Homo sapiens: one gene and its partners. The protein of the gene in region 1 interacts with the protein of each later gene in a biochemical or structural test. Each region holds a gene or a part of one and is shown in the gene's direction. Other genes may lie near its edges. The genes, in order: BMPR2, INHBA and GDF6.

Region 1 (11,275 bases):
GTGAAGATCAGTTTCGCAGATGCTGTTAGTCTGTCCTCTTGGATTTCTGTGTTGTTCTCCTTTATTTCCTGCTTCCTTACCCCTACCAGGAAAAAAATCCTACTTGTTGGGGTTTTGGTGATTAGAATATTGGGGATTATTTTACCCTTGGATACTATGTTAGTCATCAGGGCTGTTCACAAATATTCAGGTTCTCTTTCTCATGACATGGTAGGATTACATTTTCTGCCCTCTTTTTTTCTTTTTTTTTTTTGAGACTGAGTCTTGCACTGTCGCCTGGGCTGGAGTGCAGTGGCGCGATCTAGGCTCACTGCAACCTCTGCCTCCCAGGTTCAAGCGATTCTCCTGCCTAGGCCTCCGGAGTTGCTGGGATTACAGGCACCTGCCACCACACCCAGCTAATTTTTTGCATTTTTAGTAGAGAAGGGGTTTCACCTGTCTCGAACTCCTGACCTTGTGATCTGCCCGCCTCGGCCTCCCAAAGTGCTGGGATTACACGCGTGAGCCACTGCTCCCAGCCTCTGCCCTCTTAAAGTTAGGTTTGGCCATCTGACTTTGGTGGCCACTAAAATATGAGTGGAAGTAAAGCACACTGCTTCTAGGTGGAAGCTTTTTAATGGCTACAGCAAGACACTGCAACACTAGCAATTAAATTTTATGATCCCTACTGTCACAATTTTGAAAACATGTGTCTCAGTGAAGCCTCTACCAACCTAAGGACCTCAGTGATTAAAATGAGAGAGTCCATGCAGTGGACATTTTGCTGAGCTCCCCAGATCCACCCTTTAGGTCTAAAGCATTCTTTCTCCCAACTGCTGGAACTGCTGGTGGCTGACAGTGGTCAGCTGGGTCCCTCTCTGGGGGTAGCTGTTGGCTAAAGAGAGCCCTTTTATCAAAGGTCACGTCTGTCTTTTTTTTTTTTTTTTGAGATGGAGTCTCGCTCTGTCACCCATGCTGGAGTGCAGTGGCGTGATCTCGGCTCACTGCAAGCTCTGCCTCCCGTGTTTCACGCCATTCTCCTGCCTCAGCCTCCCGAGTAGCTGGGACTACCGGCGCCTGCCGCCACGCCCGGCTAATTTTTTGTATTTTTGGTAGAGACGGGGTTTCACCGTGTTAGCCAGGATGGTCTCGATCTCCTGACCTCGTGATCCGCCTGCCTCGGCCTCCCAAAGTTCTGGGATTACAGGCGTAAACCACCGCTCCAGGCCGGTCACATCTCTTTCAATATGTGCAGCCCACATCCAGTGACTGGTTGGTGTGAAGGTATAATTTTACTGGGTTTTGCCGGGCGCAGTAGCTCACGCTTGTAATCCCAGCACTTTGGGAGGCCGAGGCGGGTGGATCGCCTGAGTTCAGGAGTTCGAGGCTAGCCTGGCCAACATGGTGAAACCCCATCTCTACTAAAAATACAAAAATTAGCCGGGCATGGTGGCACAAGCCTGTAATCCCAGCTACTTGGGAGGCTAAGGCAGGAGAATTGCTTGAACGCGGGAGGCGGAGGTTGCAGTGAGCCAAGATCGTGCCAATGCACTCCAGCCTGGGCTACAAGAGCGAAACTCCGTCTTTAAAAAAAAAAAAAAATTTACTGGTTTTACCCAACTTGGCTAGGCAGTCTGTCTAATGCTGGATTTCCTACTCCAAGGCAGCATTCAAGGAGCCTAAATTATCAGTATACTTGAGGGACTTTTTCCCTAGATGTACTCCACTGAAGGAATCTTGAATGAAAAGCTTGCTGGGTTTGGGGGGTCTTTTAGGTGTACCTTAAAGTGTTAGCAGACACAGATTAGGACAATGCTGAAAGGCCAGCCCAGCTCCAGAATTCCTGCAGGATTGATTGATGCCTCAGTTGCAAATGTGTTGCAATTCAACTTCTCCCTCTGCCCAGTCTTGCATCCCTCAATCCCCACAGAGGTTGCTCTTGCCATCATTAGGTAATAACCTCCTGCATACAAATTTCAGAGTTTCAGTGTCTATTTCCTGTGAACTCAAGTTGCGATGGGTCCCCTGATGACTTATATCAAACATGTAACATGTGTGAGAAATAAACCTTTATTGCAATAAGATGCTGAGATTTGGTGAATGTTACTGTAATTTAGCCCATCCTAATTAGTACAGATGCCAAACCTCACCTGCATCACCAGTCCTTTGTTCTCAGCTGAGCTTGACTTACATTGTCTGCCTTTTGTCGTGGACAGGTTTCTTGCCAAGTCTTAATTCTGTTCTTTGATGTTCTTTCTCACTGTGAGTGAACAGCCATGTCCCAACTGAAATATCACAAGAAGGAACAGAAAAGGGAAGAGGGTACATATCTAGTTGTCTACCTACCAAGTCAGCGGCATGTGTTTTTTCTTGTGAATTTCCTAAGACCTTTTCTTTATGTTCTATATAATTTATCATACATTTATAACATGTACGGTAGTCCTCCCTGCCCCTTATCCACAAGGAACTTGTTCCAAGACCTCCAGTGGATGCCTGAAACTGCAGACAGTACTGAACCCAATTGCTATAAACTGGAATACATTTCTATTATGTCTTCTACCCACAAATTTAATGCCTTTTCCATCTTAACTAAGCACTTATTACACATTGTGGCCATCACTTTTGCAGTTTGAGGTATGGCAGCAAAACTAGCATGAATTTATTTTTTCTTCACAATTCAGTTTCACAGATAGATTTTTTTTTTTTTTTTTGCCAGAGTCTCTATCGCCCGGGCTAGAGTGCAATGGGCAACCTCCACCTCCTGCGTTCAAGTGATTCTCTTGCTTCAGCCTCCGGAGTAGCTGCTGGGATTACAGGCACGTGCCACCACTCCCAGCTAATTTTTGTATTTTTGGTATAGACGGGGTTTCACCATGTTGGCCAGGCAGGTCTTGAACTCTTGACCTCAAGTGATCCTCCTGCCTTGGTCCCCCAAAGTGCTGGGATTACAGACGTGAGCCACTGCACCCTGCCAAAGATTCATTGTTACCAGCAATCTTAGCAACCTCAGCCTATAATTTTTTTCCCTCCTTATTAAGTCAAGAACTCTGACTTTTTTTTTTTTTTTTTTTTTTTTTTTTTTTTTTTTTTTGAGACAGAGTCTTGCTCTGTCGCCCAGGCTGGAGTCCAGTGGCATGATCTCGGCTCACTGCAAGCCCCACCTCCCGGGTTCATGCCATTCATTCACTGCCTCAGCCTCCCGAGTGGCTGGGACTACAGGCGCCTGCCACCACGCCTGGCTAATTTTTTTGTATTTTCAGTAGAGACAGGGTTTCACCGTGTTAGCCAGGATGGTCTCGATCATCCTGACCTTGTGATCTGCCTGCCTCGGCCTCCCAAAGTGCTGAGATTACAGGCAAGAACTCTGACGTTTTAACTTACAGGAAGCACTTTACAGCTTCTGTATGGCTGAATTGCCAGCATCACTACTCTTGTGCTTTGGGGCCATTATTAAGTAAAACGAGGGTTAGTTGAACACAAGCACTTGGATATTGCATACTGCCACAGTCAGTCTGATAAGAGACTGCTACTAAGTGATTAAGGAGGTTATAGCGGATACACTGTACAAACCATGATTCACATCCCAGAAGGACAGTGTGGGATGGCAGCGATTTCCTCACAGCTAGTTAGTAACAGTACTCAATTTAAAATTTATGAGGCCAGGCGCAGTGGCTCACGCCTCTAATCCTATCATTTTGGGAGGCCAGAAGGGCGGATCACCTGAGGTCAGGAGTTCGAGACCAGGCTGACCAACATGGTGAAACTCCATCTCTACTAAAAATACAAAACTAGCCGGGTGTGGTGGCGCATGCCTGTAATCCCAGCTACTCAGGGGGCTGAGGCAGGAGAATCGCTTGAGTCTGGGAGGCGGAGGTTGCTGTGAGCTGAGATCGTGCCATTGTGCTCCAGCTTGGGCAACAAAAGAGAAACTACGTCTCAAAAAAAACAAAAACAACAACAACAAAAAAAAACACCACTTATTATTTCTGGAACTTTCCATGTAATATTTTCAGACCGTGGTTGACTGCAGGTAACTGAAACGGTGGATAAGGGGGAACTACAAAAAGGACACTTAATGTTTCTTGGAAAAAATCTTAAGCAAATAAAAATTGAATGATGAAGTACTTGATCTCAATTTGAGGAAGATAAAAGTGTACTACGAATTAATAAACTTTAAACTTTCTGCACCTCTAACATACTAAAATCCAATTTCTCTGAGTGCTAGAAACTCTCAGTTCTTGAAAGACAAATGGTAAAACAATACCGTTTCTAATTTAGACCTTTTGGGCAAAACAAAATACAGTAATAAAGCTATAAAGAATCGGTCGGGGGCGGTGGCTCACGTCTGTAATCCCAGCACTTTGGGAGGTCGAGACGGGCGGATCACGTGAGGTCAGGAGTTCGAGACCAGCCTGGCAAACATGGTGAAACCCTGTCTCCACTAAAAATACAAAAATTAGCCGGGCGTGATGGCGCCGCCTGTAATCTCAGCTACTCGGGAGGTTCAGGCCGGAGAATTGCTTGAACCTGGGAGGTGGAGGTTGCAGTGAGTCGAGATCGCGCCACTGCACCGCAGCCTGGTCGACAGAGCAAGACTCCGCCTCAATAAATAAATAAATAAATAAATAAAACCTAAATAAATAAAGCTAATGAATCAAAGCATATGCTCTTCGTCTTTTTAAGGGATTTTACTAGGTAGAATTTTTTTTTCTCTGTCTAAAGGGTAAACAGCATAAACATATTTCAACTAAAAAGAGTCTTAGAATCCGGGGTTGGTATTGCTACAACCCCTAATTATGGAAGATGTTTAGTATAACAGAACCAGTTTAAGGAATGTGGAGATTTATTTACATCAAATTCAGATAAAGAGGTAACAGCGGACTAGAAGAAGCAAGCAGAGCATGACTTAAGGAGTCTATCTATGACTGTATCTGTGGAACTGCCCTTAGCCACAATGAAAGACCAGCAAAACCAGCCTTCAGCATAACCCTCCTGCCTGGTAGGAGATGGGAAGGCCAGACTTCACCCCTCAAGATCGCCCTCCCACGCGCATTTTCCACCTCGCAGCTAAGAATTCAGTCCAGACTTCCGATCATGGCGCCACGCACGTCACCTTCTCCCCTCGCCGCCAGCAAAATCCCACCCACGTCGGCTGACCCCGCAGCGGGGTGTAAGGGCGGGAGGGATCCCGTCTCCTATACTGGTCGCTTGTACAAACCAGATCCAAAAAACGCACTACACAAATCCTTGGAAACTGCGGTACCAACGGGATCTTCTCAATTCCTTGAGTGCAAAATGATCCCACTCTCTATCCCGACACAACTCTAACTCCATTTTCCTTTCACGTGCCCTAAAAAGCCCTCAAGGCCCCCAGCCTTGGTGAATCCAGGCCCTCTCTCGGGGTGGGCACCGCGCTGTACGGACAGACGCGCGCACGCAGCGGGACGATTTATAGAATTAAAAGTCTTTTTTTTTTTTCTGGCTTCGCATCCTTGCAAATACTCAATATTCCTGTCAACTAAGAAGGCTAAGGGAATGGGCGGTTGAGGAAAGCAGGACGTCGATTACAGCGAACACATCAAAGGGGTGGTCTTTCCAATTCCGGCTTTTGTTTGAGTCAGAGGGGAGCCTGAGGAGGCCAAGGTCTCCGGTTCTGGGAAAGGCGGGTCCATCCGGATTCTTTGGGCTGCGGAGAGGGAGGTTCCAGCCCCGTGAAACAACAGAGGGCAGTTCTGCCCCTCGAGGCTTTCCTCCGAGAGTACTGAGACGGAGACGCCTCAGTCGGGAGAAATCCCGGAACTCGGAGGAGTCTGCTGAACGCCGAACAAAAGGATGTGGCCGTCGTCTCTTAAACAAATACGCGAATCCCAAGCCATGCACATTTGGAAGGCATGTGTATGTGTGTGAAGGAGAAAGGCCACCGCTGCCCACCGCAGCCCCACCCAGCCCTCGGCCATTCACCGGAGAGACGCGCTGCGGTGGGGCCTCGGAGCCCTCAGCCAGCCCCGAACGAGGGGCGGGGCCGGGCGGGGCCGTGAGCGCGCAGGCGCAGTGCGGGCTTCATCCCGCCGCCGGCGCCGCCGCCGCCGCCGCCCGCTCTGCACCACAGGCTAGAGACAGACAGGGCCGGGAAGAGCCGGAGACTGAGGAGGAGGCGGAGGCGGCGGCGGAGGCGGGGCGACTCCGGTGACCGGGAGCGCCGCAGACTGGCAGCTGCGGCGACTCCCCCCTTTGTGTCTGGTCTGCTCGGAGCCACTGGAAGTGCCTCCCGGAGGGACGCAGGGTGTCTCGCCGCCTCCCTGCCCACCCCCTTCCCCGGCTACCTTCATCCGCCCTCCCGCCGCCCCCCGCCCTCGGTCCGCGACGCCCGAGTTCCGTCAGGAGCCCAGAGCTGCGGGAGAACGAGGCGGCGGCGGCGGCGGCGGCGGCGGCGGCGGCGGCAGCAGCAGCGGCTTCCTCGGGGGGTTGTGATTCGCTCACAGGAGCCATTGACGGGAGAAGAGGAGGCTTTCTTGGTGGAATTTACCTCAGGCAAGATCGAGCCGCAGGAATAAAAAGCGAGGAAGGGAAGGGAGCGCCGCCGGGAGGACTAGAAGGGGCAGCCTCTCACACCCACTCCGCCTGCCGTCTCGGGGAGCCCGGACCGGGGCCGCGACCGCGACCCCTCCCCTCCCCCGCTCCTACCTCTCCTCAGCCTTCGCCAGGGCCTCCCCAACCCTCTCACGGTTGTTCTGCGAAGGCGTGGGGACTGTGAGCTTGTCCATGGAGGCAGGCACCTTTTTTGATCCAGTCAAGGAAGAGGATTTGTTGTTTTCGAAATCAGAGTGAAGGAAGCACCGAAGCGAAACTTAAGGAATCCTGCCTTCCCGGAGCCGCGGGCGATGCGACTAGGGCTGCCGGGCGCCGCCGCCGCCCGTCCGGCTTCGTCCTTCCCGGCAGTCGGGAACTAGTTCTGACCCTCGCCCCCCGACCCCGGATCGAATCCCCGCCCTCCGCACCCTGGATATGTTTTCTCCCAGACCTGGATATTTTTTTGATATCGTGAAACTACGAGGGAAATAATTTGGGGGATTTCTTCTTGGCTCCCTGCTTTCCCCACAGACATGCCTTCCGTTTGGAGGGCCGCGGCACCCCGTCCGAGGCGAAGGAACCCCCCCAGCCGCGAGGGAGAGAAATGAAGGGAATTTCTGCAGCGGCATGAAAGCTCTGCAGCTAGGTCCTCTCATCAGCCATTTGTCCTTTCAAACTGTATTGTGATACGGGCAGGATCAGTCCACGGGAGAGAAGACGAGCCTCCCGGCTGTTTCTCCGCCGGTCTACTTCCCATATTTCTTTTCTTTGCCCTCCTGATTCTTGGCTGGCCCAGGGATGACTTCCTCGCTGCAGCGGCCCTGGCGGGTGCCCTGGCTACCATGGACCATCCTGCTGGTCAGCACTGCGGCTGGTGAGTAGCTCCGGCCGGCACGTCCCGGCCACTGCCCCTGCGGGTGGCGAGGGAGGGAGCCCGCAGAGGCCGAGGCCTGTGCTTGCCCTTCGCCATGCGTCCCCCCGATCGCGGTGCAGCGGAGCTGCGACCCGGTGCCTGCGCGCCTGCCCCATGCCTTCCAGGGAAATCGCCTTTAATATTCTTGTGTATTTTCCTATCCCCACTTCCATATTCCCACCCCACCCCCCTTTACGGGGTGAAAAAGACATATTGGGTGTGGTATCTTGACATTTTTAGCTGTGAGGTAATGCAACGATTAAAAATAATATTTTAATCACCAGTGAACAGTGCTTATTATGAGATCTCTGGAAACAGACCTGTAGATTTTTAAAATTATTATTATAAAGAAGCGGTTTTGGCTTATAGTAAAAAGAACATCAACTAGAGAACACACACTTGAACCTTATTTTGAAATTTAGATCACTCTGGGAATCCATGTTCCTTTCATTATTCAGAAATGTTACCGAATGAATAGAATAAATGTTGAGGAAGCCAGAACTGTGAGATTCTTGATATATTGTATTATACGGTTTGATAACTTTACTGTTAGTCATCTGGCATCTATCTATTGGCTTTGCTGTCGAGACAACTTTGACCTGACATTAGACTTCTAGGAGATTTGACTCCGAAAGTTCTTTGACATTTCACTAAAGTCTAAAGGGTGGTAGTCATCCTTTCCTTTGGATATTTTCATTTCAGTTCTCAGAAACCTTAGGAAAAAGACCTTATCTTCTATTTGCAACTATTTTTTCAAGCAGCCTTTTGGTGATTTGCTTTTAGAAATTTTCAGGAGTGAATTCTACATATAACTCGTACACTTGGTTTATGATGGGCAAATGGATTGTGCTTTTAAAACGAGTAAAGGACCAAATGACCCTTTCGAATTACTTTTTTTCTTTTGATAAGTGTGTTTCACATTAAACAAATTTCTCATTGCTATGTTAGATACAGAGGTTACTTGCTTATTTTCATTTTGAAAGTCTGATCTAGGAAAATGCCGAAGAAAATTTGAAGTTTCCTTTTATGCTTTTGCTATTGTTGAATAATGTCTACTGTTGATTAATGTCTGTTAAATTGATGATAAATCTATATGGTTCTGTTAAAATAATTTGAACTTCTGAGTTTACTTTAAAACTGATATTTTAATATTTTTAATAATTGTAGTTGCTTTCAGAGTAAAAATGATTTTTCTCTAAATTTCTTTATATTGTGTTAGCTATTTAAATTCTCTAGCCATAAGCCATGTGGTTCCTGTAAAATATGGAGTAAAAGGCCTTAAACGTTCCATGAGCAGAAATCTCAGAACATAGGCTTTTCAATGTTATTTGTTATTCTTAACCTTTTTAGAATATAGATTCTCATTTATGATGACGTGCTCATAATATTGTGATCAGAACTGATAAAAGTAAGAGAAAAAGCATTTATTTAAAAATAAACTTAATTTTTGTTTGGTAATACAATCATCTTAGAATAGTGTCTCTTAAAAGGGAGAGAGTAAAAGAATCACTGCTTAAAAGTGGTTGTAGTCTTTTTTTTCTTTGGTATTGCATAGCACCAGATGACAAAATTTGTGAAGCTGGATTTCAGACCTGTAACAGTAATGATAATAGCTAGTATTTATTAAGTGCCTGCCATGCACCATCAGCTATTCAAATAACTTTACATATATTTTTTCATTTCGTCTTCATGACAATTCTATGTTGTAGGTTATTATCATTCCCCTTTTCCATAGAGGGAGAGTAAAGTACAGAGAATTTGAATAACTCACCACACAGTCAGTAAATTATGGAGCCAGGATTATAGTGTGCGCCCTCACATACCACATTAATGGTAACAGCAGCACTAGCAGCAACAACTTCTCATCTTATTGGATATATGAGATGGAGTAATTAGCCTTCACCAGATCAACCTTTGTAAAGAAGCAGGGACACTTACAAGGTGTTAGTGCAGCAGTGGTTATGCAAATGTCGTAGTTCTGAACATGTAAAACTTTGCTTGGCCTAATATTGAAGTGGCTAGTGCAGCTTCATTAAGTGCAAGCTGATTAGAGAGGGCCTGTGTGGATTTGGGTTACACAGATGCAGTGATGTTAACTCGACAGGCGCAAATGGTGCAGCTGAACAGGAAAATAAATCCTAGAAGACTGATTGATAGCACATCCTTTTTCGGGGTCATGGATAAATCATTTCTTTTGATTCCCTCTTTCTCACTTATTGAGTTCTTGGACTCCTTAATTCTTAGAACATTTTCTTTCTTTCTTTCTTTCTTTCTTTCTTTTTTGTTCAGACAGAGTATCACTCTGTCGCCCAGGCTGGAGTGCAGTGGCACGACCCTGGCTCACCACAACTTCCGCCTCCCAGGCGCAAGTGGTTCTCCTGCCTCAGCCTCCAGACTAGCTGAGATTACGGGAGCCCACCACCATGCCCAGCTAATTTATTTTTATTTTTTGTATTTTTAGTGGAGACGGGGTTTCACCATTTTGGCAGGGTGGTTTCGAACTCCTGACCTCGTGATCCACCTGCCTCGGCCTCCCAAAGTGCTGGGATTACAGGCATGAGCCACCACACCCCGCCTAATTCTTAGAACATTTTCTATGCCCCCCCCAAAAAAAAAAACAACTTATGAAAAATAAGATGTGCTGGCTTGGTTTATGAATGAATTCTTAATAAAAGAATACAACACAGCTATTATTTAAAGGTCAACTTCTGTAATGCGTTTTAAATAATTCACTTGATTAGATTGCAATTTTACATACATCTCTTGAGGAACACACACATTATATAAAGTAAGATTAATCTAATGTTAGTGAATATTACTGAGTAACTGAAGTTTAGTAATCTTCATTTTAGTTTTTCTCAAAGTGTGGGTACTGCAACAGAATTACCTGGGGTTCTTGATAAAAATGCATATTTTTGGCCCTATAGTCCAGATGTACTGAATGAATCTCTCTGGGAGAACCCCCGCAAAGTCTCACTCAAGCAGGTGCTTGAGAAGCACTGCTTTATATCATCAGTCCTGATTGTTTGGATTTCTTTCTTTTTTTTTTTTTTTTTGAGTTTTGCTCTTGTTGCCCAGGCTGGAGTGCAATGGTGTGATCTCGGCTCACTGCAACCTCCACCTCCCGGGTTCAAGCAATTCTGCCTCAGCCTCTCGGGTAGCTGGGATTACAGGCATGTGCCACCACTCCTGGCTAATTTTGTATTGTTAGTAGAGACAGGGTTTCTCCATGTTGGTCAGGCTGGTCTTGAACTCCTGATCTCAGGTGATCTGCCCGCCTCGGCCTCCCAAAATGCTGGGATTATAGGTGTGGGCCACTGTGCCTGGCCCTGGCCCTGGCCCTGGCCCTGGCCCTGGCCCTGGATTTCTTTCTTTCTTTTTTTTTTTTTTTTTTTTTTTTTTTGAGACAGAGTCTGGCTCGGTCACCCAGACTGGAGTGCAGTGGCGCCATCTCAGCTCACTGCAACCTCTGCCTCCCGGGTTCAAGTGATTCTTCTGCCTCAGCCTCCCAAGTAGCTGGGACTACAGGTGTGCACCACCACACCCGGCTAATTTTTGTATTTTTAGTAGAGACGTGGTTTTACCATATTGGCCAGGCTGATCTCAAACTCCTGACCTCGTGATCTGCCTGCCTCTGCCTCCGAAAGTGCTGGGATTATAGGCATGAGCCACCACGCCTGGGCTGGATTTCTTAAATATGGTGATTCAGTGACATTTTGCTGTGTAATTATTGGCAACCACAAAATCTTAGTGGCATGCAACAATAGGCATTTATTCTGCTCCATGTGTCTCTTTCTGGGGTCCAGGCTAGAG
Region 2 (10,294 bases), on another chromosome or scaffold:
GAGAGCAGGTAATGAAAGGTTCGCAAAGCAACCAGCTATATCTGGTTAGCTAGGTAATAGTGCAGGAACCTAGGTCGCACCTGTACAAACTAATGCAGAACCTGCTCACGGCGCACTATGGGAAGACATTCATTTCAAGAGTTTACAGCATGAGATATTTGAGTAAAACCTGAAACTGATTAGAAATTGATCCTGAACATCCCAGCCTTAGTCAACCTTCCCTTTTTCAAATTGTTATGCATGGAGATTGGAGGATTGGGGCATCTTGAAAGTGTCACTGCAGTATAGCAATCTCTCTCAGGTAATATAGAGATAAAGGGAATATAATAAATTGACCTGTTATTTATTATCTTTTTCATACCTAGGACATTCCGAGGCTTAATATATTTCTGAAGCCTACAGCCCTGATAAACATCAATCCCACGTCAGTTTCCAGCAGTCTCATCTCCCCACACCCTTCTGCAATGAAAGCTAATGTAAAAGAAAGAAATATGCACTGCTTAATAAGTCAGAATACAATAGAACTTGTAAAATGTACCTGCATATAAGGTAGACATTAGGAAGACTTGAATCTCTCTCTTCCCCCTGTTCTCCTGAGCATTATGGCAACAGCATTTTCATGAAATTAGATCTGTTTTATATTTTTTCCTGATAAAATATCATGCAATATACAAATAGCAGTTCCAGAAATGGACACCAGGAGAAGGAGGCGACAGGCATGTCAATTAGTAGGGGGAAAATCCAAATGTCAGAAATATGGGGGAGAGAGAAAGCACGCAGGCAGTGGATGCAAATACAGGGAACAGAGTCTTTCAATTCAGATAATTAAACGGATGCATAAATCAGCACCCTTGCCTCTCTACAATACGCAGGCGATGCCATGCAGTTAATTATCAGCCAAGACCAGCATGAAAGTCATTTTATGATGACTCTCTGATCCTAATATAACAGCACCTGACAGATTGAGCCCCCTCTAATGAGTACTCTCTTTGTACAATCCTCTCTCAGGAACACTAAATCATTTGCTTCCAAGTACAGCTGCCTGTGAAGAAGGGGTGGGGCTAGATCATGCATCAGAAACCTGCTCTTGTGAAATCAGGGGCTGTCCTGTAGGCTGTGTGACTGGAAGCCAGCAGCCTCAGCCTCTCTGGCCCTAAAAAAGCAATTTGCACACGGCTGTCCCTAATTCTAGTCAGCCAAGTAACCCTCCCTCGGCACCCCCACCTAAACATCTGTAGTCAGCCTTGGGTGTTATTCATGGAAAGTCCACTGCATGCGGGTCAGCACTGCTGTCCATCGGCTTCACCCTGACCCCTTCTGGCAGGTGTGGATGAGAGTAGAGCAGAGCTCATGGGGATGAGTTACCCCAAACCTATTAAGCCTCCCTATCCGGGGCACTAGTCAGACACTCCAGTTTTACACTCTTTCCTAGAAAAACAAAACCCAACCTTGTGCCCTCTGGGTTCTCTAATTTAGCAGCTACTATCTGTCTGTTTTTGGAGTGACACCCTGTGCAGTTTAGGATTTCAGAAGCTGTCCTGCATAGAGGCAGAAGGGAAAACAGCAGGTATCTTGTTAACATTCTCTATGGGGCAAGGCAGATGTGCCCAAGCTGGAGGAAACCTGCACACCCTCCAGGCTAGTTATCCAAGGCTTGGGAGGTTTCCCTCGGCCTTCTCCTAAGGCCTTGGCAGGACCCTGCCACCCTAAAATCAACTGCTGATTGCCTTTTTAGATTTAAATGATTAAGCTCTGCTTATGGGAATCTTCTTCTCTTTTATTTTGTTAAGAAACAAACAACAACAACAAAACCCACACCAATTCTTAGCAAAGGGGAATATCGAATTCAGATTTTGAAAAAATAAGTCATCATGCTTCCTAAAATAAGACAGCTTCTCCCTCTAACTGCTCTCTCTGCTCTGGTATTCTATCTAATCATAAACCCAGCTTTATTATTCATTTCAACTCCTGCCAAAGACATGAGGTCGGAGTCAGAGGAACTCCCCTTACCACCGCCACCATCATCATGGCCAGCATCCTCGTAAGTTTATAGAAAGATGCCAGAGAACCTTTCCTATCCATCTGCAGCCCTGCTTGGCCCTTGCCTCAGTGAATTTACCACTATCATAATCACAGTGTGCAGAGTGTGTTAAATTAAGAACAGAATCCACAGTACGCAATGCACAGAAAAGCCTGCCTTCTGCTGCAGAGAACTTGAAACTGTGCCTAAAATTTATAGTACCGTAAACATCTCAGGGCCTCGAGTGATAAGTATGGCTGGATTTCCGTTAACTATAGAAATCCAGGCAGGGAGATCCTCCCAGGGAGTTGCAAGTTCTAAGATGAACTTCTTGAAGATTGTTCCCAGATTTGTGCATGGGATACATGTACAGCAGACAGTTGTAAGGAGGTCCACGGTCATGGAAAAGAGGATATGTTTCTATATGCCACCAAGTGGGAAAAATGGAAGTGAGGGAAAATATTTGATTAATCAAAAAATTTTAGTTTGGATACCTGCTTTCATAGTAATTGTTGCTGTGTCATTAAACATACAGTTGCTTAGGAAAAGAGAAGGAAATAGGTGACTTTCTAATTTTAGAGTTAGGCTGGAACTGAGTGGTTGCTAAATTCAACTGCCCTGACAATGTGGGGATTTCCTGTCCATTAGCAGCGATTGCTATTTGACATATGTTTCTGGTGCCCATTAATCTGCCCTGTAATGGGTCAGAGGCAAAAATGGGGGATTCAGAGGTACTAGGTGGCTCTCTTAATTTAATAGAACTCAATGCTAAGGACGCCTCTATTTGTTAATAAGTAATCAAGTCATTGGCTACTTTCTGCTAAACACTAGACTATGATAGTGACCTTAGACCCCGGGCATTCTAAACCAGGCTGGCAGGAGGGTGGTGGTGGAGGTGATGTGAGGTAAGCCTCCTAGAGGAACTGTCATCCAAACAATCTGAAAATTGAAACATTATTAAAGGCAGCACTAAGGGTGGTATGTTGGAGTTGGGGCAGGAGCACTTAAGGCAGAAGGAACAGCAGGTGTCACTGCCTGCAGTTGAGAAAGGGGGTGGAATTCTCAAGGCCTTAGACCCCAGAGAACAGGACTGGGCAAGAGCTGACATTCAAGGGAGGAACAGCATGTACAGAGCCCAAAGTCCCAGCCACTTTCTGTTGGATACTGAGCAATAGGAATTCAGTAAAGGACTTTCAAGAAGAAGTGATGTGATCAGATCCACCTGTGGGAAAGATGCCTTTAGCTGCTTCATGGAGAAATGACTGGAGAGGAGGCCTTCCTTAGTGTTGCAGAGGCAAAGTAAAGAAAATGCTGCTGCAGTGACCCAGCAAAGAGGTGATGGCGGAGGAATCAGGCTGTGACAAGGGAAGAAGAGGCTGGCTCAAGTGTGTCTCGACTGCACAGACTTACACAGCGAGGTGGGGCCAGGGGCTGCATTTTTGTCTGAGAATAGTATTTCCTTAGCTTTCTAGAGCTTACAGTGTCTTTTTGTTTATGTTATCTCATTTGACCTTCCTAAACCTGTGAGATAACAGGTCAAATGTCCTTATGTCATTCCCATTTTTATAGAAGATGAAACTGAGGTTGAGCAATTAGTCAACAGACACAGACTCGCAGGCCCTCTTCATTCTAAAGCAAGGGTCCAAAACCTTTTTTCTATAAAGGGCCAGAGAGTAAATAATTTAGGCTTTGTGAGCCAGGCAGTCTGTTGCAGCTACGCAGTCCTTGGTTATTATAGTGCAAAAACAGCCATAGGCAGCATGTACAGAAATGAGCATAACCATGCTCCAACAAAACTTTATTTACAGGCACTAATGTTTAAATTTCAGGTAATTTTCACATGTCACAAAATATCACTTTTCTTTAACCACTTAAAAGTATAAAAGCCATTCTTAGTTTGCAGGCAGTACAGAAACAGTTTCAGCCCATGGGCTGTCATTTGTTGACCCCTATTCAAGAGGGTCTGTCACAGAAGACTCCTGCTTGCCTGAAATTTACGAGTGCATGTAAATGTTGGAATTAACAGGTGTGCCTGTTTTCTCTTATGCTGTCTTTCATCTTCAGGAACAGCCAGGAAGACGCTGCACTTCGAGATTTCCAAGGAAGGCAGTGACCTGTCAGTGGTGGAGCGTGCAGAAGTCTGGCTCTTCCTAAAAGTCCCCAAGGCCAACAGGACCAGGACCAAAGTCACCATCCGCCTCTTCCAGCAGCAGAAGCACCCGCAGGGCAGCTTGGACACAGGGGAAGAGGCCGAGGAAGTGGGCTTAAAGGGGGAGAGGAGTGAACTGTTGCTCTCTGAAAAAGTAGTAGACGCTCGGAAGAGCACCTGGCATGTCTTCCCTGTCTCCAGCAGCATCCAGCGGTTGCTGGACCAGGGCAAGAGCTCCCTGGACGTTCGGATTGCCTGTGAGCAGTGCCAGGAGAGTGGCGCCAGCTTGGTTCTCCTGGGCAAGAAGAAGAAGAAAGAAGAGGAGGGGGAAGGGAAAAAGAAGGGCGGAGGTGAAGGTGGGGCAGGAGCAGATGAGGAAAAGGAGCAGTCGCACAGACCTTTCCTCATGCTGCAGGCCCGGCAGTCTGAAGACCACCCTCATCGCCGGCGTCGGCGGGGCTTGGAGTGTGATGGCAAGGTCAACATCTGCTGTAAGAAACAGTTCTTTGTCAGTTTCAAGGACATCGGCTGGAATGACTGGATCATTGCTCCCTCTGGCTATCATGCCAACTACTGCGAGGGTGAGTGCCCGAGCCATATAGCAGGCACGTCCGGGTCCTCACTGTCCTTCCACTCAACAGTCATCAACCACTACCGCATGCGGGGCCATAGCCCCTTTGCCAACCTCAAATCGTGCTGTGTGCCCACCAAGCTGAGACCCATGTCCATGTTGTACTATGATGATGGTCAAAACATCATCAAAAAGGACATTCAGAACATGATCGTGGAGGAGTGTGGGTGCTCATAGAGTTGCCCAGCCCAGGGGGAAAGGGAGCAAGAGTTGTCCAGAGAAGACAGTGGCAAAATGAAGAAATTTTTAAGGTTTCTGAGTTAACCAGAAAAATAGAAATTAAAAACAAAACAAAAAAAAAAACAAAAAAAAACAAAAGTAAATTAAAAACAAAACCTGATGAAACAGATGAAGGAAGATGTGGAAAAAATCCTTAGCCAGGGCTCAGAGATGAAGCAGTGAAAGAGACAGGAATTGGGAGGGAAAGGGAGAATGGTGTACCCTTTATTTCTTCTGAAATCACACTGATGACATCAGTTGTTTAAACGGGGTATTGTCCTTTCCCCCCTTGAGGTTCCCTTGTGAGCCTTGAATCAACCAATCTAGTCTGCAGTAGTGTGGACTAGAACAACCCAAATAGCATCTAGAAAGCCATGAGTTTGAAAGGGCCCATCACAGGCACTTTCCTACCCAATTACCCAGGTCATAAGGTATGTCTGTGTGACACTTATCTCTGTGTATATCAGCATACACACACACACACACACACACACACACACACACAGGCATTTCCACACATTACATATATACACATACTGGTAAAAGAACAATCGTGTGCAGGTGGTCACACTTCCTTTTTCTGTACCACTTTTGCAACAAAACAAAACAAACAACATTAAAAAATTGAGAACAAGTATGGAAAGAATGAAAGATCAAGGAAAAAAGAATACCAAGTTACATTTCGTTAAGGTGCTTATGATCTTAGAACTATGCAACCTAATAGGTTTGAAACTGTTTACCTGAGAGAGAACAAAAAGAGAGACTTTTTTGTATTGGAAGTAATCTGATTAATTTTTATTTTCTTCAAGGAGAGATACTTGAAAGGAATATGTTTGTCCATCTGTTGGATCCAAACATTTCTATATTTTGTAAATGTTGTTGTTGTTTTTTTTTTAATCGTTTACTATTTGCACTACAATGGTGTTTGACCTGTCTAATCCTTATTTAACAAGTATTTTCTTTGGTTGGGGGTGGGGGTGGGGTTTAAGAGCTGCACTTAATGTGAGCTATAAAAGAACTGCTACAGCACACAAAATAGCTATTTTTATTATTATAATTATAATTATTATTATTATTTTGTACCTTAAAAAATAGACACATACACCAAAGACATTTGTGTGAGCCTTTAAACAGTCTGTCTGTGGTTGGTATCATTCACCATCAATGAGTCAGGGGTTGGGATTCAAGGTTGAGTAGTGTGGATTGTGTTCAGGCTTAAAAGACCTGAGAAGTTTGGTTTTTGACTCCTTTTACATCCATGAAACAGGACATTTCATACTGGATGTACAGTAGTTGTACACTGTTGGATATCAAGTTCAATCAAATTCATGGAACTACATGCTTGTATGTGTATATATACATTGCTTGTGCATATGCATATCTGTATGTATATATACATGTATTGTACCATGTCCATACACATTTTAAGCACTTCAGGCTGTCATTTTTTAATGTTCTTAAAGCAATGAATGTTTGTGTGCAAAACACAGTATTTTTAAGAAGGATAGGCTATAGTTTTTGCTTTTACTCTGAACTAGGTGGGCGCATTTCAAAAATTCGGATGGGAAAAAGCCTGGAAATTCCAGTGAATATTCAGCAAGGCCCTCTTTCATTGTACAGGGATCAAATTTCCTCCTCTTTTTTGTGCCCCCTCCCACTTCTACAAGTTATCCCCTGTGGGGAAAACAGGATGATAATCAAAACTCTGGGCTGATGTTTTTCCAACTTAGTGTCTATTGGAATCAATCTTAAATCAGAAGCTTTTTCAGAAAAATAATATTTAGGCCAGAATTAGAGTTGAGTGTATTTTTTAAAAATGATTAAGGCTTGGTTGTGAGAAATATTACCTGTACCAGCTGGGAAAAATAATGTCATCACTAACTAAAAGATAATTAATTTGAGAGAAAGTGTTAAGAGAGGGAGAGTAAGGAAGAGAACAGTTAAGAGGAGGCAGAGGTGAGGGCAGTAGTAAAAATCTCTAAAATTTTAATTTACAGCCAAAATTCTTCATGTGTAAATTTGTATTGATTCAGATGCAGAAATGAAAAAAAAACACCTTTGTTTTATAAATATCAAAGTACATGCTTAAAGCCAAGTTTTTATCTAGTTTATTCTAGTACTTAGCTTGCCTGGAATAGCTAATAAATTATTCATGTATGTGCTTTTGAAAATCCAGAGCCCTATTTTTACACACTTGTGTGAAGTTGGCAAACATTTTGAAAAATGGAAAAAAGTTTCTAATAATTGGGAACAATTACATTAATTAATATTTTGTAAAATATTGAAGCTTTTAGCCCTATGTCAATTTGTAGATTAAAATAAATTAATTATAGGAAAGGAAGATAACAGTGAGAAACCAAACATTACAAAAGGTGGTTTAGCTCTCCTTGAAAAATATACTAAGTTGGTATACTATAACACTTGGCTATATGTAGGCAATGTCACTACTGGGCAAATACACTTACTGTGTTCTAGAGGCAGCCCTTTCTTATGCAGAAAATACAATACGCACTGCATGAGAAGCTTGAGAGTGGATTCTAATCCAGGTCTGTCGACCTTGGATATCATGCATGTGGGAAGGTGGGTGTGGTGAGAAAAGTTTTAAGGCAAGAGTAGATGGCCATGTTCAACTTTACAAAATTTCTTGGAAAACTGGCAGTATTTTGAACTGCATCTTCTTTGGTACCGGAACCTGCAGAAACAGTGTGAGAAATTAAGTCCTGGTTCACTGCGCAGTAGCAAAGATGGTCAAGGCCATGGAAAAAGCAGAAATTTACCAAGAAAGCTGATACCCATGTATAGTTCCCACTCATCTCAAATACATCTGCTATCTTTTTAAGCTAAGTCCTAGACATATCGGGGATAACATGGGGGTTGATTAGTGACCACAGTTATCAGAAGCAGAGAAATGTAATTCCATATTTTATTTGAAACTTATTCCATATTTTAATTGGATATTGAGTGATTGGGTTATCAAACACCCACAAACTTTAATTTTGTTAAATTTATATGGCTTTGAAATAGAAGTATAAGTTGCTACCATTTTTTGATAACATTGAAAGATAGTATTTTACCATCTTTAATCATCTTGGAAAATACAAGTCCTGTGAACAACCACTCTTTCACCTAGCAGCATGAGGCCAAAAGTAAAGGCTTTAAATTATAACATATGGGATTCTTAGTAGTATGTTTTTTTCTTGAAACTCAGTGGCTCTATCTAACCTTACTATCTCCTCACTCTTTCTCTAAGACTAAACTCTAGGCTCTTAAAAATCTGCCCACACCAATCTTAGAAGCTCTGAAAAGAATTTGTCTTTAAATATCTTTTAATAGTAACATGTATTTTATGGACCAAATTGACATTTTCGACTATTTTTTCCAAAAAAGTCAGGTGAATTTCAGCACACTGAGTTGGGAATTTCTTATCCCAGAAGACCAACCAATTTCATATTTATTTAAGATTGATTCCATACTCCGTTTTCAAGGAGAATCCCTGCAGTCTCCTTAAAGGTAGAACAAATACTTTCTATTTTTTTTTCACCATTGTGGGATTGGACTTTAAGAGGTGACTCTAAAAAAACAGAGAACAAATATGTCTCAGTTGTATTAAGCACGGACCCATATTATCATATTCACTTAAAAAAATGATTTCCTGTGCACCTTTTGGCAACTTCTCTTTTCAATGTAGGGAAAAACTTAGTCACCCTGAAAACCCACAAAATAAATAAAACTTGTAGATGTGGGCAGAAGGTTTGGGGGTGGACATTGTATGTGTTTAAATTAAACCCTGTATCACTGAGAAGCTGTTGTATGGGTCAGAGAAAATGAATGCTTAGAAGCTGTTCACATCTTCAAGAGCAGAAGCAAACCACATGTCTCAGCTATATTATTATTTATTTTTTATGCATAAAGTGAATCATTTCTTCTGTATTAATTTCCAAAGGGTTTTACCCTCTATTTAAATGCTTTGAAAAACAGTGCATTGACAATGGGTTGATATTTTTCTTTAAAAGAAAAATATAATTATGAAAGCCAAGATAATCTGAAGCCTGTTTTATTTTAAAACTTTTTATGTTCTGTGGTTGATGTTGTTTGTTTGTTTGTTTCTATTTTGTTGGTTTTTTACTTTGTTTTTTGTTTTGTTTTGTTTTGTTTTGCATACTACATGCAGTTCTTTAACCAATGTCTGTTTGGCTAATGTAATTAAAGTTGTTAATTTATATGAGTGCATTTCAACTATGTCAATGGTTTCTTAATATTTATTGTGTAGAAGTACTGGTAATTTTTTTATTTACAATATGTTTAAAGAGATAACAGTTTGATATGTTTTCATGTGTTTATAGCAGAAGTTATTTATTTCTATGGCATTCCAGCGGATATTTTGGTGTTTGCGAGGCATGCAGTCAATATTTTGTACAGTTAGTGGACAGTATTCAGCAACGCCTGATAGCTTCTTTGGCCTTATGTTAAATAAAAAGACCTGTTTGGGATGTATTTTTTATTTTTATTTTTATTTTATGTCTTATTTATTTTCCATGATCAACTTTGCACACATATTGACACATCCTTTGCTGGGTGATAATTTTGTTTTTACTGTAATTATCCAGAAGAGGATGAGAAACAGACTGAATGTGGGAGATAACAAAAGCTGGAGTGAGAGAGCTCAAGTAGAAAAAGAATAGATTTTGCCATGGCAGAGGCTGGTAATGGGCTGCAGATGCTTGGATCAGCAATATTTATATTTTATTCTTTTGTTGATTTCCCATTTCTTCAAGTGTAGTGGCAACTACTCACAGGAAATGAAGAGATATTCATTCCTTCCCTCCCTCTTTCCTTCTTCCTCCTTTCCTTTCTAGCTAGAAAACTGGAAATGCATGGAGCAACTAGAGCTAGAGATCTATATACATGGGGAAAAATGTACTTAGTCTTATTACCGGGACCAACAGAGTTGGAATTTGGAATTACAGAAGTAAGGTCAAACATTAATTGATAGGTCGACCTTTTCTTCTATAATTTTTCTCTATTATCTGTGCCCATCTCAGAGTTTATATGGAGAAAGTAACTTCCAAAACTGCTCATTTGGACCAGGAATATCCCATGTATGGCCTCATTTGATATTCACATATCATTGTTTTAACTACCCTGCACAATAGGTGTTATTGCTGCTTTTACAGATGAATCTGAGGCATGATTGAGTAACATTAATTGGAATTAAAATTCCAACCCAGGTCTATATTCAAATCTAAAGTTAATTTTCTTTTTGTTCTTCCATAAT
Region 3 (10,294 bases), on another chromosome or scaffold:
GAAAGGAAGAGTAAAGAGAAGGAAGGAAGAAAATGACGGGATAAAAGCGATTTAGGCAGATATCCACTCCTCCATCCTCCCTAGACTTAGCTCCATGACTTTGACCTGCTCCCAGTTAAGTGGGGTTGCCCGGAAACCTTGCAGCGCTGGGGTTCGGGATTCGGAAGCTGCTTCAGCCACTGCTACCCTGGGTGCTCGCACATCTCTTAAGCTTTTTAGAGCAGGCTAACGGCCCCCCCGCCCCCAGCCCCGAGCTCTTCCCCGGCTCCAGTCCCCGCCTCTCACTCATAGTCGCGTTCCTTGCTCGAGGGTCTCGCCGCTGCAGCCCGAGGTCAGCGAGGTTCATGAGCTGCTGAAAGGTCCAGAGGGCAAATTAACGCCAGGTATTTTATGATGATTTTAGGGCTACTAAAGTCACCTTTGCAAAGACATGTGGCTTCTTCGTAGTAGTGCAACTGAGTCCCTGGCCTCCGTGCTGCCCGTGCAGCTCGCCAACCCTCCCCACGACGCACGCCTTGCTACAGTTGTTTCTGTCCCTCAAAGTCCTCTGTTAATCGTGCACTTTCTCTACTACAATTGCGGAAGGAGGCTAAGGAAGCTCAGAGAAGACTGCTCAAGAGGCCCTTCCTCAAGAGAAGAAGTCCCAGAGGCCTAGGCTGGCCGGCGGTTGGGCGCGGATTTTCTTTGCCCGGGAATGAAGTGGCAAGAATCTCTGCCCCTCCCCCAAGTGGGCACCATAACTGGTTCGCTGCGCCCTGTGAATTTGGCACAGGACCAAAAGACCCTGCGGGCTGTTCGGAGGTGTCTCCGGAAGCCTGTGGCATTCAGACAAGGGTTGGGGAAAAGTCTTGGGGGCCCCAATCCGGCGTAGACGCGAAATCACTTTACCCTGGTTTGCCCTGTAGCCTCCCCACCCCCATCCCCGCCACTGCGCTGTATGCCCCCGATCCTGGAGATAGAGGAGGGATTGCATGTGCACCCAGTCTGGGGAGGCCTCTGTTCCCGAGCCAAGGCCTCCAGACTAGCAGGACCGAGATCCACAAGTACCGCTACAACCCCGGAATGCGGTGGAGGGCTGGGGATGCGAGCGGTCCACAGCGGGAGGAGACGCTGCATGACCACCCGGACAGCATCTTCAAAGGCGCTGTCTCCTCCGCGTCTCCGGGTTCTCAGAAAATGCGAAGAAAGGCAGTTCGTTGACTGGGAAGGCGGTGCGGCTTGTCGCACGCCGCGCGGGGGTGAAGGAGTGCGGAGCCACGGGCGGGAGGGGTGCGCAGAGGAGGGGGTGCGTTGCTGGCTGCAGCCCCAGCTTGATAAAGGGAAAGCCTCACTTTCCCTCTCACTGATTTTGATTTGATGTGTCACCGGCGGTGACCTCAGGCTGGACCTTCCGGGGCTTGCTTAGCATCGGGCCCCTGATTGGAGTGTTTCAACTCAGCGATCTAATTGAGGGTTCATGTCATAACACATCAAACGGTGTCTCGTCTCCCGTGATGGAAGGGACCCGCCAGCCGCGCATCCCCGGCTCCTGGCAAGGACTTCCGCCCCTCTCACGTGGGGCTCTTAACCGCGCCAACCCCCCTAGGGTCCCCTCCCCCAACGCGTGGACGGCCTGGCGAGGAGGAAAGAGCAGCGGCCCGCCTAGAGCTGGGCCAGCAGCGCTAACTTGGCGCCTTGCCTAAGGGATGTTTAAATCGCCGTCGAGTGGGGCTGGCCTGGCTCGGTGGAGCCGGGGGTCCCCCAAGGGGAGGAGCGAAGAAAAGGAAAGGAGCCCCGAAGTCAGTCCAGGAGGCATGGGCGACTTGCTCCTGTACAGTATCTGTAAAAAGCCTTCCTTACCCCGGAAACCCCAAAGTTACACCTGAAGCCTATGGTTGAGAGTGGGAGAACAGGCATAAACTCTGCCCAAAGTGAATGAAGGACGCTTTAGGTTTATAAAGAAAGCAAGTTCTGTACTCCATCCCAGGCCACTTCTCCCTATCCTCCAGGAGGAGAACTTATTGGGGAAAAAAAAAAGAAACCAAACAAACCTAAAACAGGTCCCTTCTTTCAGTATGCTCTCCAGACACCTAGGAGTAATAATAGTAACCACGATTTATTGAAAATTTACTGTGTACCAAGCATTGCACTAAAATTGGTTACATGAATTATCTCGCTTAGTTATCACAACCACTTCCTAGGAAAACGCTATCATCACCACGTTTTACAGGTGAAGTAAAGAAGACAGAGGAGTTAAGCAAGTTGCTCGAGGTCACACAGCTAGCGAGAGGTGGGGCCTATATAAGATTCGAGACCCTGCATGTTTAACTAGAGCACTGTATAGATAGTTTAAGTGGTGAGGTGGTTTCTAATGGATGATGACAAGAAGCAGAAGTCAAAAAATGGAAAGATTTTCCCCCAGTCTAATATTTGTCTGCAGTCACTTAAGACCCAGTTAGGAGTGTGAGTGAAACTAGATGTGAGGGTCTGAATTTTGGTGTGCTTTGCTTCCTCCTGTTCTTATTTTAGCAGATGCACAAACCATATTATCCCTGATTTTTAAAAATGCTCTTATATTGTGCTTTAAAAATGATGTTGGATCCATAAAGGTGAGAAGGTGTGTGCCTGTGTGTTTAGGTGCCATCATGGGATGAGAATGGACAAGGTTGGATATGATGAAATTACAATTTGCTCATGAAATAACTCATTAAAAGGCTACTAGTACTGGGGCCCTGGACCCCCAGCCCTGGGGCCTGGGAAAGCCAGACAATTAGTTCTATGAATTTAGCAGGGCTGAGAGATAGAGGGGAGGGAGGAAAAGAGAGAGACAGAGAGAGAGAGAGAGAGGGAAAGAGAGAGAGAGAGAGAGAGAGAGAGAGGGAAAGAGAGAGAGAGAAAGAGACTGACTGATTCAGACTTTCAGTTTATGTAGGGAAAGGTGCCACATAATTCCAACAAGGAGAAAAAACAACTCTCAAGAATGAGAGAACCGAAATGAGTCTAAGACTATTGCTGTGAGTTAGGTTTCCAGATGGCTTTGAAATAAGAATACCCTTTACTTTTTTCTTGTTGTAATAATATTCTCAAAAAGGAGGCAGTAAGGAACAGATAAAAACCAAAACGAGATGGGAACATCCTTGAAGAACTTGATGCCCTAGAAATAACTCTCAGGACAGTTTGCCACTGATTGTTTGTTGGCTTCTCCATTCACCTTCTGGGTCGTGATTACCAAAGGGCAGAGCAGGACCATTCTGGGAATAGCCCGGCTGCGGGGAGGGCATTCAGAGAGTTGCATAGTCCCCTCGCGATTGAAGTTCATCTGGTACCTCATGTTATGCAAAACAGCGGGTTTCTGGGTGGACCTGAGCCGCAGAGTGGTGTAATCAACTCAGCAGTGCTTTTGCCGGTACCCTGTTGTCGTTGGCAAACCGAAAATGAAATATAAGCAGGGAAGTATTTTAATGGGGACGGAGGGAATTCACAACTGTTAATTATTTGGTGACCTTGTATTCGATTTGTTTGAGTCCCTTATAAAAACACTAATGCAGACCAGACGGCCAAATGAGGAAGCTGGGCAGAAGGTTCCAATCTAGGCTTTATTTCCCCGGAAAGAGGGAACAGCCTTGGAAAAGACTTGCTAAGCGTTCAAGTGTGTGCGTATGAGGGTGCGCCTGCATGAGCGCGGGCACGGGGTTTGTGCCACTGTCCAGGCTCACGGTCCTCCTCCAGCCAGGTGAACTGGAAGGTCCTGCAAAAAGCCTGGGGGTAAGGGAAAGAAGCCTTAAATTGGAAGTTTGTTTTGCTCTTCTGGTTCGAATAAGTAAGGCACGTTTAAGGCCACAGACCAAACTCTTAGGCACTGACTTGCTGTTAAACATCAGTTATTGTAGTTCCAATCCTTAAGGCCTTAAGGTCTGCCTTACAGGGAAAAGCAAGAAGATTCTAAAAAGAAAGAAAGAAAGACCACCTAGTATGCTCTACAGCGAGAGCGCAGGTTGCGCAGGGATTCTTGGCGAGTTTCCTTGGCAAAGGAGGCTAATCTGAGACGGACATAGCGTTTTCCTCAACGCGGGAGGCTCTCGGGCCTCTGGGAGTTCGCGCGGTGGAGTTGCCGATGGGGGAGGGGATCTAAAAACGTGCTCAAACATCCTTGTGGTTTCTGCGCATTAAAAGAAAAAAGTCACTCAGACCACAGATCACGACAGGCCTGGCGAATCCCTCTTCTCCACCCTCCCCACCCCCCAATTGAATCAGGACTTGAAAGCTCCTCTTTCCGACCGGAGAGGATGCGTGTCACCTGGACCCGCGGGGAACGCAGGGCACTGCATCGGAGGCCCTAACACCACATGTTTTTCTTAGCTGGAGTCCTTGAGGTTCTTACACACCTCCTCGAAAGTGGTGACGTCTTTCTGGGGCGGTGGCGGAGAAGGAAGAAGGGAATGAGGTGGAGACTGTGGGGAGGAAGATGGTATGATAGAAACAGGGCAGAACGAGAACTTTTGTTTCCTGCTAGGACTACTGCGTGCACCAAAGGTCTTAGAGCAAATCAACAGTAATCCCTGGGGGCTTTTAAGTAAAAGGAAAGCCATTAGTTCGATAACCCCTCGGGTATTGAATAACCCGGGTCAAACGACACTCTTTGGACCAGGGGACTGAATCGAGCCGAGCCCTCGAGGTGTGGAATGCCGGAATGTGGATTCACCGTGCCATTCCGTTGCTTGACATCCCTCCATCCCCCACCCCAAGGCCTGGCTGTTTATTTTTAAACTCTAAGTCGGTTAAATAGTATCTCCTGTTTACAGGAATTAAATAGGTCCTCCTTGGACTAATGGGTTCCAGGGTTGCAGTTCTCTGCCTTCTAAGACAGTCCATTAGCATTGCTGGGGACTGAGGGTTGGGTCCACTTGGGGTGAGGGGCTGCAAGAGCTTGGAAGGGGCGGGCGGCGGGCGGCGCTGGACAACGTTCCTAGGGAAGCGCGCGCGGCGGCGCTAGTGGCCCCGGCGCCTGGGGGCGGGGCATGGTTTAGGGACCCGAGAGTGGGCGTGAAAGAGGCCAGGGGCGGGCCTCTAGCCCAGGCTGGTTTAGCTTGGGGAGAAGGACAGAGGACGGGCACAGGGGCAGCGCAGGGGATTGGCTTTAGTGGGGTGCAGAGGGCATCCCTTAATAACATAGGAGCCCAGGAGAATCGGTGCGCCTGCTTTGCAAACCTGGCTTCCAGGCAAATTGGTCCAGCCTCCCACTCCACTTCCCAGCCCACTGCCGCTCCGAAGCTCAGCGTGGAGGGAAATTGACTAGGAATAGACTAGGGCCCACGAATCTCACTTTGCTAAATTGTTTCGAAAGTCAGACCTAAATGAACACCGCAGACAGAGATTGCGGCTCTCCCTTCCTCCCAGACTGCACACGGCCCAGCACCTTAAAGAGCACAGCACAGCGGTTTCTCCTGCGCAGGACCCCTGGGTGCTGAGTCCAATATCCTCCCCGCGACTACAAGCCAGTTTGAACCCTCGCCCCCACCTGCAAGCTCAGAACTGGTCAGGGAGCGGAAGTCACATAAAATGAACACCCTTCCTTCTACTTTTGATCTCAAAACTGAAGCCATGCAGCCCGATCATATTCCAGCTCCGATGGCAGTTTGAGGATTCCTCCCTTTCCGCTCCCCTAGCCTTCGTGGAGGACCTGGTTGCTCCCCTGGGCTCCCGGGTGACTTACCGGTCGACAGTGCAGGGAAGGCCGCCCCTAGCCAACCCCCCAGGTCCCGGCCCCAGGGGAAGGGCAGGCCGCGTGCGCGCCTCAGTGAGATGGGGAGGGAGGGCTCAGCGCGGGAACAGTACGAGAGCTTCGGTTTGGGTTTCATCTGCAGTGATGTCAAATTAAGATTTGAGCCGCTGTGGTCGGGAGCCCAGAATGGGACCCCGTTGAAAAGAGAAGCACAGTGAAGTGCCCTTGATCTCAGCTTTGCCTCTCTGGCCCCTCAAGAGAGCACGCAGCCATCAGGGTCATTAACTAAGTTCAGGAAAACTGCTTTGTAAATGAATCTGTTTCATCCTCTAGAGACAAAAGGAGTTTCCTTAAAGCGCCTTGGAGCTCCTGATAGGGTGAGCAGCACTCACGGGAGAGGGCTTCTCCCCAGCCAGCACTGCTTGTCAGAAACAGGCACCCTGGGGTTAGAGCTAAGGCCACTAAAGGCGGTGCTGAGGCCCCGAGGTGAGGGGTGCGAAGCTGTTTTCAGTTGGGTGGGATTCGAGGATCTCCTTTCTTTTCTTTCTCTCCACTCTCATTCATTTGCCTCACCTTGAGCCGCAGCTTGCTGTGCCCATACAGGGATTTCTCCCAGGGATCCAGGCAGGCCACTAGACCCACTTAACTTGTGGAGTCTACAAGGCCCAGGCCCCTCAGGAAGAGAAGGGCCTGGGTCTGGAGGCCTGAGGGAAAGAGTGGAAAAGCCTCTCCAAGACTCCGTGGAAGACTTGCCTTGGACCCCTCTGGTCTTTGGAAGCAGAAATACAGGGCAAGCTATTGGGGAGGGCACTGGGGAAGCCAAGAGACATGAGAAAAGCTGGACTGGTGAATGTGTGATGAGAAGGAACACACACTGAAGACAGACCCGCCAACGAAACCTTCGAAAGTGACAAGCACCACAGGCCTGGCCTCATGCTGCAGCCCAAGGGGCCCTCCATTGCAGCCCTCCCCATCAATATGTGTCTGGCCCTTTGCACAGTGAAGATCAGTAACATCTGCCTCCTTATCCCCACCCCAGACTGGCCCTGTGGTCAGATCGTGCCCCCACAAAAGGACACCAAAGTGGGGAAAGAAACGAATCCTTAGGCCTCTCAGGGCTGCACTGCCAGCCAGGGAGTCATTTGGGTTAGCACAAGGGCTGTCACTGGCCTTGACCCCTGCAGAAGAGGAAACCTGCAAGAAGGGCTGGATCCTTGATGTGGCTGGGGTGGAGGTCATCTGTTCACCTGGCACTGTGGGAGGGACAGCAGTGGTGACAGGGCCTCACAGGACTGAGAAGAATCGGGATGATGAGGTGAGGCTGCAGCCTCCATGAGCCTTGACTTTCACTTGACTTCAGATAAGCAGGAACTGGAAGCGTCTTCATCTTTCTCATGCTTCCTAGCACCTTTCCTCCACTCACTTCTGGAATCTTGTGGAGAGAAGTGGACCACAAGGACTGAAGTCCAGAGAACTGGATTTCAAAGGAAGTCAAGAGAAGGACAGGTGCACCTTCCCCTAGAAGATGTAAGTAGTCACAGAAATATTGGCTGCATTCACTGGACGTCTCTATGTACTATGCACATCCCTGAGGTACTTTGACTCTGACCTTTACAATGATCCTGCAAGGTACAGGTGGTTCTCTCATTTTACAGCTGAGGCATATGAGGCTGGGAGAGATTATGCGACCCAGTCTAACCAAGGTCACCCAGCCACTAAGTCACAGATCAGGACTCAAATTTATGTCTCTTAGACTTTAAATTCCTATGCTCATTCCACATTGTCAGTAGTGACTGACATTTGCATTCAGAAGTCTTTCTCTCACACCTTATCTCATTTGCACCCCTCTGTGGCCCTGTTAATTTTCCTCCTAAATTCTCTTTCACAAGTCCAATCATCGACATTTCTTCTGCTGAAGTAATGACTGCTGTAGTTCTGCTGAAGTGAGTGACTCTTGCCGGCCAGGGATTGATGCCCTCCCTCCAGGCATGGGCAGCATGGAAGAGTTTCTCAGGGTTTCTACAAGGCACAGAGATCAGGGCTGGGATGTCTAGGGTGGTGGCACAGATACTGGAGCCAGATTGCCCACTCTACTACTTAGTATCTTGAGCCAGTTACTCAAGCTGTCTCTTTTAGTTTAGAATGATGGCTGTCTCAGAAGTGGTTTTGAGAATTAAATGAGTTACTACAAGTTAAGAATTTAGATCATGCCCAGAACAGATTTAGTGCCACACCAGTGTTTGCTCTTAACGATTATTATGCTGGGGGATCAGGCATGAGTATTGGGGTTAAGAAAAAGCACCCTGGAAAGGGTGAATTGTATGGACTGCTTCCCGAACTTACATCTCAGTAAGAATGTTAGCAATGCGTCAGCAGCTTGCAAAGCTCAGATCTCAACAGAGGCCTGACTCAGGATGAGTATCTCCTCAGGGGGAGGCCCAAGAGATCTGTATTTCAGGAAGAGGGTACATAGTTGGCACACAGATTCCCCTTAAAGCCCTTCACACTCCAGGAGGAGGGGTTGGTGGCTCATTTTTAATCACCCAGTACACCTGGCTCTATTTCCAACCTGATGGACTTTGCCCCCTCAGTGCAGCGCGGAAGGTGAGAGACTTAGTTGAGAAAATGACTCCAAGCCCAGTCATGAATTTTGAGCTTGGAGGTCTTCTTTGTAGTAAAGAAAAGAAAAAAAATCCTGGGGGAACCCAGCCCACCTTGATTACACTAATGATGAAGCTATGTCCTATTTCCTGGCCCCCTGCCAAAACAGGACCCTGGTAGAGCAGCATGGCTGCAGGACTGGGGTCAGAGTACTTGGAATTAGGACCTTCAACACCTGTCTCTTGCGCTGCAGGACTGGGGTCAGGGCACTTGGAATTAGGACCTTCAACATCTGTCCCTTGCTAGTTTCAAGACAATGGGCAAGATACCTCTTAGAGCTTTAGTTTCTTCATCTATAAGTGAGTATCACAGTAGGCCTGACCTTAGACGTTCGCTGTGAAAATTCAGTGAGAGAGGCCATCAAAGCTCTGAGCACGTGCCTAGCACAAAGGTGGTGCCCTACAAGCGCTCAATGCTGCTGCTGGCTCTAAAATGAGGGGGTAAGGGAAAGGCGCCTAGAGTTTCTCTTGCAAAGATGGGTGATTCTCCCTGCCTGGGGATTGGGGATGGGAAAGTCCACTATCTTCTCGACTTTCTGGACAGTGGCCTAGTCGCGGGGCCTGTGCCACCGGAGAACATGGCTGGGAGGCGTGGCGGGACGCCTGGCCAGTAGCTATCCAGGGTCACTGCGTACTCAGAGATGTGAGCCAGGTGCGCGCGGAGGAATCTCGTGGAGCCCAAAGTCAGCCGTACCAAGAATCCTGCAAGTCCGGGAAGTTGGAGCCGTGGGTGCACAGCCAGGCGAGTGACAAAATCCAACTAGGACTTTCAAAAGGGACCTCAAGCTGAGTATATATCTCAGAGATGTCTTGGGAAAATGCAATGCCAGGCCCTTCCCACCTCCAACCAAAGGAAGTTTCTGGTTTTTGGAAACCCTCTACAGGCTAGCCCAAGGAAGTAGCCCCCAGCAGAAGGCTCTGGGGCTGGAGTGGGCAGGCTGGAGTGGGCAAGCGCACAGAGTCCTGCAGCTACGTGTCCCTCCCTCATGCCGCCCTCTTGGGGCTCAGGTTCCCCGGGCGTCTGGCCTTTGGCGTTGCGGGCATCTTTTCCTTTCCGCTCTGGAGTTTGCCACTCCAACTTTCTCCAGCCACGTACTGTGACCGTGGACAGATGCCCTTTTCCTTTCTAGGCCAGTTTTCTCATTTAAAATGGGTGCAATGGTAATTACTTTGCAAATAGGTACCATTCCTTCTCTTGGTTTCTTTTTTTAGTTAAAATTTTATTTTTTACCTTATATTCACCCTAACTGAAAATTTGTACCCTTTGACCAACATCTCCCCTCTTTTAAATTTTTCCTAAATTCTACACCAGAAATATATGTTTGAGGTGCTTTCAGCCTTTTACCAACTCGTTGACCATTATGAAGGAGTATCTTCTAACATGCCACGGTTTGTTCCTTCCTTCTTATTTTTCTCTCTTCACCCTCCTTTCTCTACGTAGCTGCCAGGAAACGAAGATAAGCCCTAATCCAGCAATTGTAACTGGAAATGTTTATATGTCTAATGTTCAGCAAACACCGTTAACAGAGGTGTGAATAAGCTGTAACAAACCAGGTTGATGCAAAGTAAAAGGGAAATAAAAAACTCCCACCATGTATTTCTGGTCAATTTCAATTTAAGGGCCCAAAGCATAGGATTCACTTCCAGGATGTGGGAAAGTGCCACAGATTTTCAAGTGACAAGTGCATGTTTTTTTAGTCAAAGGGGTGGGAGAGAGGATCATTTGATGACATCAGTCTTCATTTATACAAGACTTAATGGGAGAGGAGGCTTTTGGAACGGAGTATGAAGGGCTGGCTTTTTGCCCACAGATGGCTCATGGCAGCTGAGCCAGGCTCTGTGATGCCAGGTCAGCAGGCAGCAGGCAAAGTGTCTTCAGGGTAACAGTGCATGGTGTTGTATTCACTCCCCAGGTTGGATGCCTCCTCTGAGC

Evidence for each region.
Region 2: the proteins of BMPR2 (region 1) and INHBA form a complex in vitro, tested with the Homo sapiens proteins (one study listed by BioGRID).
Region 3: the proteins of BMPR2 (region 1) and GDF6 form a complex in vitro, tested with the Homo sapiens proteins (one study listed by BioGRID).

The regions. Positions count from the first base shown.
Region 1 is NC_000002.12:202,370,128-202,381,402, forward strand, and holds the start of BMPR2 (bone morphogenetic protein receptor type-2 precursor), read left to right. Parts: upstream 1-6,199; 5' UTR 6,200-7,347; coding exon 7,348-7,423; intron 7,424-11,275. UniProt on the Homo sapiens protein: On ligand binding, forms a receptor complex consisting of two type II and two type I transmembrane serine/threonine kinases.
Region 2 is NC_000007.14:41,684,333-41,694,626, reverse strand, and holds the end of INHBA (inhibin beta A chain preproprotein), read left to right. Parts: intron 1-538; exon of another isoform or gene 539-708; intron 709-4,084; coding exon 4,085-4,977; 3' UTR 4,978-9,513; downstream 9,514-10,294. UniProt on the Homo sapiens protein: Inhibins/activins are involved in regulating a number of diverse functions such as hypothalamic and pituitary hormone secretion, gonadal hormone secretion, germ cell development and maturation, erythroid differentiation, insulin secretion, nerve cell survival, embryonic axial development or bone growth, depending on their subunit composition.
Region 3 is NC_000008.11:96,148,942-96,159,235, reverse strand, and holds part of GDF6 (growth/differentiation factor 6 preproprotein), read left to right. Parts: intron 1-10,294. UniProt on the Homo sapiens protein: Growth factor that controls proliferation and cellular differentiation in the retina and bone formation. Plays a key role in regulating apoptosis during retinal development.